Linked DNA regions of Homo sapiens. The protein of the gene in region 2 purifies or fractionates together with the protein of the main gene of each other region. This does not show direct contact. Each region holds a gene or a part of one and is shown on either strand. Other genes may lie near its edges. The genes, in order: FN3K and GMFG.

What was found.
Region 1: the proteins of GMFG (region 2) and FN3K purify together in Homo sapiens (affinity purification with mass spectrometry; one large-scale study listed by BioGRID and IntAct). This does not show direct contact.

The regions. Positions count from the first base shown.
Region 1 is NC_000017.11:82,742,101-82,745,922, reverse strand, and holds part of FN3K (fructosamine-3-kinase), read right to left. Parts: intron 1-3,822. UniProt on the Homo sapiens protein: Fructosamine-3-kinase involved in protein deglycation by mediating phosphorylation of fructoselysine residues on glycated proteins, to generate fructoselysine-3 phosphate.
Region 2 is NC_000019.10:39,330,179-39,333,092, forward strand, and holds part of GMFG (glia maturation factor gamma), read right to left. Parts: coding exon 2,899-2,914; intron 1-2,898.

The DNA.
Region 1 (3,822 bases), on a different chromosome or scaffold from region 2:
ACGGGGTTTCACTGTGTTAGCCATGATGGTCTCGACCTCCTGACCTTGTGATCCACCCGCCTCAGCCTCCCAAAGTGCTGGGATTACAAGTGTGAGCCACCCCACCCGGCCAGTAGTTTCTTAAAGAGCTAAATATGGACCTACCATATGACACAGTCATCCCCCTCCTAGGTATTTACCCGAGATAAGTGGAAGCATTTGTCCAGACCAAGATTTGTACACAAAGGTTCACAGCGGCTTTATTTGTATGAGCAAAAACTGGAAATGATCCAGAAATCCATCCACATGTGAATGGATAAACAGGCTGTGTTAGATCCGTACAGGGGAATGGGCTTTTGACACATGCAACATGGATGTGTATCACGGATGAATATCAAAGGATTTTAGACTTGGATAAATATCAGCATGATTATGCTGAGTGAGAGTGTGGGGAAAAGCAAGAGAGATCAGATTGTTACTGTGTCTGTGTAGAAAGAAGTAGACATAGGAGACTCCATTTTGTTCTGTACTAAGACAAATTCTTCTGCCTTGAGATTCTGTTAATCTATGACCTTACCCCCAACCCCCTGCTCTCTGAAACGTGTGCTGTGTCAAACTCAGGGTTAAATGGATTAAGGGCGGTGCAAGATGTGCTTTGTTAAACAAATGCTTGAAGGCAGCATACTCGTTAAGAGTCATCACCACTCCCTAATCTCAAGTACCCAGGGACACAAACACTGTGGAAGGCTGCAGGGACCTCTGCCTAGGAAAGCCAGGTATTGTCCAAGGTTTCTCCCCATGTGACAGTCTGAAATATGGCCTCGTAGGAAGGGAAAGACCTGACCGTCCCCCAGCCCGACACCCATAAAGGGTCTGTACTGAGGAGGATTAGTATAAGAGGAAGGCATGCCTCTTGCAGTTGAGACAAGAGGAAGGCATCTGTCTCCTGCCCGTCCCTGGGCAATGGAATGTCTCGGTATAAAACCCAATTGTACCTTCCATCTACTGAGATAGGGAAAAACCGCCTTGGGCTGGAGGTGGGACATGCGGGCAGCAATACTGCTTTGTAAAGCATTGAGATGTTTATGTGTATGCATATCTAAAAGCACAGCACTTGATTCTTTACCTTGTCTATGATGCAAAGACCTTTGTTCACATGTTTGTCTGCTGACCCTCTCCCCACTATTGTCTTGTGACCCTGACACATCCCCCTCTCGGAGAAACACCCACGAATGATCAATAAATACTAAGGGAACTCAGAGGCTGGCGGGATCCTCCATATGCTGAACGCTAGTTCCCTGGGTCCCCTTATTTCTCTCTATACTTTGTCTCTGTGTCTTTTTCTTTTCCAAGTCTCTCGTTCTACCTAACGAGAAACACCCACAGGTGTGGAGGGGCAACCCACCCCTTCATGAGAGAAGCAGACAGAAGACATACCACATGATTCTATTTATATTAAATTCCACAAGATGCAAACTAATCTACAGTGACAACACCAATGAATGGTTGCCCAGGGGCAGGGAAGGGCACGAGGAACCTTTTGGGGGTAATCAGTATACTCACCTTGACTGTGGTAAAGGTTCACAGGTACAAACATCAAAATGTACCAAATTATACATTTTAAATGGGTGCAATTTATGTCAAATTACACCTCTGTAGAGAAAAATACGAAGCTGATTTTATACAAAGGGTTATTTTGTAAAACTCCTTCGGGGAGGACCGCCCTGGTCAGTGGCCCCCACCAAGAATCTCCCTGCACATGGGTGCTGTGGTGACTCGGCCCCTGGGCTCACCCTCTGGTGCTGTGTGCACCTCAAGAGCAGGATGGAAAGGCCCCTCCCCATAGCCTGGCTGTCAGATCCCCAGCTCAGAGGTGCACCGTGCAGCCTCCCGTTATTTCCCATTTGCCTGCCCAAGCTCCCAGCGTCTGAGCTCTGTACTCTTTCCAGAAGACAACCAGGTTTAGTGCTGGAAGCAGGCGACCAGCCTGGGCTAGCCCAGTCCTGCCACCTGAACAGAGGGGCTGTGATCCTCCAAGCTACCCGGGGAAGGTGCCACCTGGGTACACAGCTGGTCCCAATGACCAGGCCTCCCCTGACAGAGGGGCTGCGTCATGGTCAGGGCCTGTGGTCTGAAGCCAGACTGAGGGTCGAAGCCCAGCTGCCCCGCTGACAAGCTCCATGGACCCAGGCATGAACTCTGCATGTCACTTTCCTCATCTATAAAACGGATCAGTGACATTATCTGCCTGGTTACCTGCTAGGGCAAGTGGGTGAGTTGAGTTCAGTGAAGTGCTTAGAAGGGTGCCTGTATGTGGCAGTGTACAGAGCATGGGGCAAGCACCACAGCCGACCCAGCTGGCAGCCCCAGGGGGCCTTAGTGCCCAGGTGTCTGAGGAGCCCGCCGCTCAGCACTGCCCCCCATTGGCTGCAGCACACATTCCCCCAGGACCCATTGAGCCCTCCCAAGGAGTGGGAAGCCTCCGGAACCTGGTGCTGTCCGAGGCACAACAAGCAGGAAGCAGGGCAGGTGTCCTCCCTGGCGCCTCACCCTTCCTAGCCAGGCTGCACCTGATCTGAGGTGGGTTCCTTGATCCTGGAGTCCGAGGGGCATTGAGGGGCTCCCTGTGCTCCAAACAGACTAGCCCCCTTCTCGTCTGCTTCACACACAGGGGCTCTGGGTAAGATTTCACTTCATTTCTTTGAAACACCACTCTGCTGGGCCAGCCAAGTCCTGTAGAGCCCGCCACTTGCAGCCCTTGACCTCAGCATCCACAGCAGGACCACAGGACCACAAGCTGCACCCAGCCGTGCTCACCTGGACAGGTGAAGAGGGTGCTGCTCACTGGCTCCGGACAGGTGTGTGACCCCAGGGGAGCCAGCTGTGGCTGAGATCTCGGGGGTCTCGGTAAATCTGGTAAGCTCCATGTGCAGTTCTAGCGAGCCCAGATGTGAGGACTGCCTGTTGGCTGGGAACCCTAAATCTGCTTGGGCTTCATGAGGATCTTGCCCCAGGTGACCTCCAGCTGGGAGAATCACCCTCTACCCACACCAGGGAGAGCTTGGTCATTGTTCGCAGGGACCCAACTAGTCAGGACGGGCGTCGACAAGGAGACAGATTTGAAAGTATTCTCTCTTCAAGAAGCAGTGACTTTGAACTAGCTCTTATATAATGGGTGCTGTGTTCCTAACAAAACCAAAATATGGTCCAATATTGGCTTCTTCAAGAGAAGCACAGGGCAGTTGGGCTGTCCAAAGTCTTCTTTGGAACTTCACAGATTTCAAAGATGATGGTTCAAGAGGCTCCAGTATTATTCAGCCATAAAAAGGAATATGTAAAGAAACGTGTGGCCTAGCCATAGAATGGAATATTATTCAGCCATAAAAGAATAACATTCTAACACCTGCTACAACATGGAAGAGCTGTGAAACATGATGCTGAATGAAAGATACAAAAGATCACATATTATGTGTTTCCACTCATATGACATATCCAGAAAATTCAAAGAGACAGAAGGTACATTAGAGGTTGCCAGGGACCAGGAAAGGGGGAAATGGGGAGTGACTGCTAATGGGTTCTGCTTTAGGATAATGAAAATGTTCTGGCCAGGCATGGTGGCTCACACCTGTAATCCCAGCACTTTGGGAGGCCGAGGTGGGTGGATCACCTGAGGTTGGGAGTTCAAGACCAGCCTGACCAACGTGGAGAAACCCCATCTCTACTAAAAATACAACATTAAGTCCAGGCGCGGTGGCTCGTGCCTGTAATCCCAGCACTTTGGAAGGCCGAGGAGGGCAGATCACCTGAGGTCAGGAGTTCGAGACCAGCCTGGTCAACATGAAA
Region 2 (2,914 bases):
AAAGTCACTTGCCTAAGGTTCTACAGATAGGGGAGAGATTTGAACCTGGGAAAGTGAATGCCAGCGTGTAAGTTCTCACCCCCTATGCAATTCTGTCCAGTGCACTTGAACCCCAGGTGCACTGTGACCAGTGATGGCTACAGAATCATCCAAGCCCGGTATAAAATGAAAATGTGGGGCATCTTGTTCAAGAAGCAGGAAAATTGTTTTCCTTTCTTTTGTAGTCTCTCTCTAGACTGATCATCGTCTTTTTTTTTTACTGTTATTAGAGACAGGGCCTCACTCTGTTGCCCAGGCTGGAGTGCAATGGTGCGATCCTAGCTCACTGCAGTCTTGAACTCCTGGGCTCAAGCAATCCTCCTATCTCAGCCTCCAGAGTAGCTGGGAGTATAGGTGCACACCACCATGCCCAGCTAATTTTTTTTTTTTTTTTTTTGAGACAGGGTCTCACTTTGTCACCCAGGTTGGAGTACAGGGACGTGGTCTCAGCTCATTGCAGCCTCGACCTCCCAGGTTCAGGTGATCCTCCTGCCTCAGCCCCCCAAGTAGCTGAGATTACAGGGGCGTGCCACCACATCCAGCTAATGTTTTTTGTGTTTTTTGCAGAGACAGAGTTTCACCATGTTGCCCAGGCTGGTCTCGAACTCCTGAGCTCAAGTGATCTGTCCACCTCAGCCTCCCAAAGTGCTGGGATTACAGGCATGAGCCACTGCGCCTGGCCTTTTTTTAAAAAATTTTAGTAGAAATGGGGGTCTTGTTATGTTGCCCAGGCTGGTCTTGAACTCCTGGCCACAAGCAGTACTCCCACCTCAGACTCCCAAAGTGCTGAGATTACAGGTGTGAGCCACTGCGCTCAGCCTGTCTTTTTTAGTTTGCTATTTAAAGTCGTGCTCCCTCGGGCATGAGGATATGCGCAGGCAGAGTGCAGATGCTCACAGGAACACCCTGTAACTTGTCAGGCAAGGGGTGCCTTCTGGACCCTGACCCTCCCTACACCAGCAGGAAACCCAAGGACAGCAGCGGTCACTGGGTGGGTGCAGAGAGTGGGTGGCTGAGAACCTGTTCAGGGAGGCAGCCAGGTGGTGGACTGCCTGTGAACCTAGCTCCAAACCCCAGCACATTTGTGTGAAGTCCATTGTCCCATCTGACTTCATACAAAACAGAAATTCAAAGATAAAACTATAAAGAAGGTGACCGTTAACCCCCATGTGTGAGGCCCCCTCCTGGGTGCGGGGCCCTGTGCAATTATCATATGCCCATGAAGCTGGTCCTTGTTGAGTCCTACAGCCTCTAATCCTAGAGACCCAAAATGAATTCAGTCAAGATGAAAAATCTTAGCAGACCAGTTTTCACAGAAATAGTCAAAGAGCTCTTCCACCAAAAAAAGCACCAGGCTCATGTGACTTCGCCCAGGATTCTACCTGATAGTTAAAAGTCGAGTCATTCCTTTAGCAGGGTGCAGTGGCAGTGCCTGTAGTCCCAGTTACTTGGGAGGCTGAGGCAGGAGGATGGCTTGAGCCCAGGAGTTAGAGGCTACAGTGAGCCAGGATCACAGCACTGCCCAATAGCCTGGGTGACACAGTGAGACCCTGTCTCTAAAAATTTTTTTAATAAAATAACAATAATAATAATTAATTTGTTTGCTACCTAAAGTGTTCCCAAACATTGAAAAAGAAGGAAAATTTCTTTTTTTGTTTTTTTGAGACAGGGTCTTGCTCTGTCACCCAGGCTGGAGTACAGGGGTGCTATCTTGGCTCACTTGCAGCCTCAGCTTCCTGAACTCAACTGACCCCCGACATCAGCCTCCCAAGTAGCTGGAACCACAGGCACATGCCACCATGCCTGGCTAATTTTTTTTTTTTTTAATAGAGACAAGGTCCTCCACCAGGCGCGGTGGCTCACGCCTGTAATCCCAGCACTTTGGGAGGCCGAAGCAGGGATCACCTGAGGTTAGGAGTTCGAGACCAGCCTGGCCAACATGTCTCTACTAAAAATACAAAAATTATCCAGACATGGTGGTGGGCCCCTGTAATCCCAGCTACTCAGGAGGCTGAGGCCAGAGAATCGCTTGAACCCAGGAGGCGGAGGTTGCAGTGAGTCAAGATCGCGCCACTGCACTCCAACCTGGGCAACAGAGCGAGACTCTGTCTCTAACAAAAAAAAAAAAAAAATAGAGACAAGGTCTTGCTATGTTGCCCAGGCTAGTCTCGAACTCCTGGCCTCAGGTGATCCTCCCGCCTCAGGCTCCCAAAGGGCTGAGATTACAGGTGGGAGTCATAGTACCTGGCCAAAATTTCATTTTTAAAAAATGATGCCAGCGTAATGTTGAAACAAAAACTCAACAAAGTTTGTACAAAAAAAAAAAAAAGACTCTTAAACCGGTATCATAAATAATCGGTATAAAATTCTGCAATAAAATATTGCTATACAAACAAAAAGTTCTAGAGTATGAACTCTTGGCCTCAAACACAGAGATTCTTTTTTTTTTTTTTTTTTTTGAGATAGAGTCTCGCTGTGTCACCCAGGCTGGAGTGCAGTGGTGTGATCTCAGCTCACTGCAGCCTCTGCCTGCCAGGTTCAAGCGATTCTCGTGCCTCAGCCTCCCAAGTAGCTGGGATTACAGTCACATGCCACCACGCCCAGTTAATTTTTGTATTTTTAGTAGAGACGGGATTTCACCATGTTGGTCAGGCTAGTCTTGAACTCCTGACCTCAAGTGATCCACCCTCCTTGACCTCCCAAAGTGCTGGGATTACAGGGATGAGCCACCTCACTCGGCCAAACACAGAGATTCAAAGTCCATGAATAGGGCTGGAACTCCAGCAGTCCCTTAGCCTATACCTCCAACATCACCCCTCCCCTCATGGCCTGATCCAACCCTTTCTTCCCCCAGGATACCTGGGCTGTCTCTCCG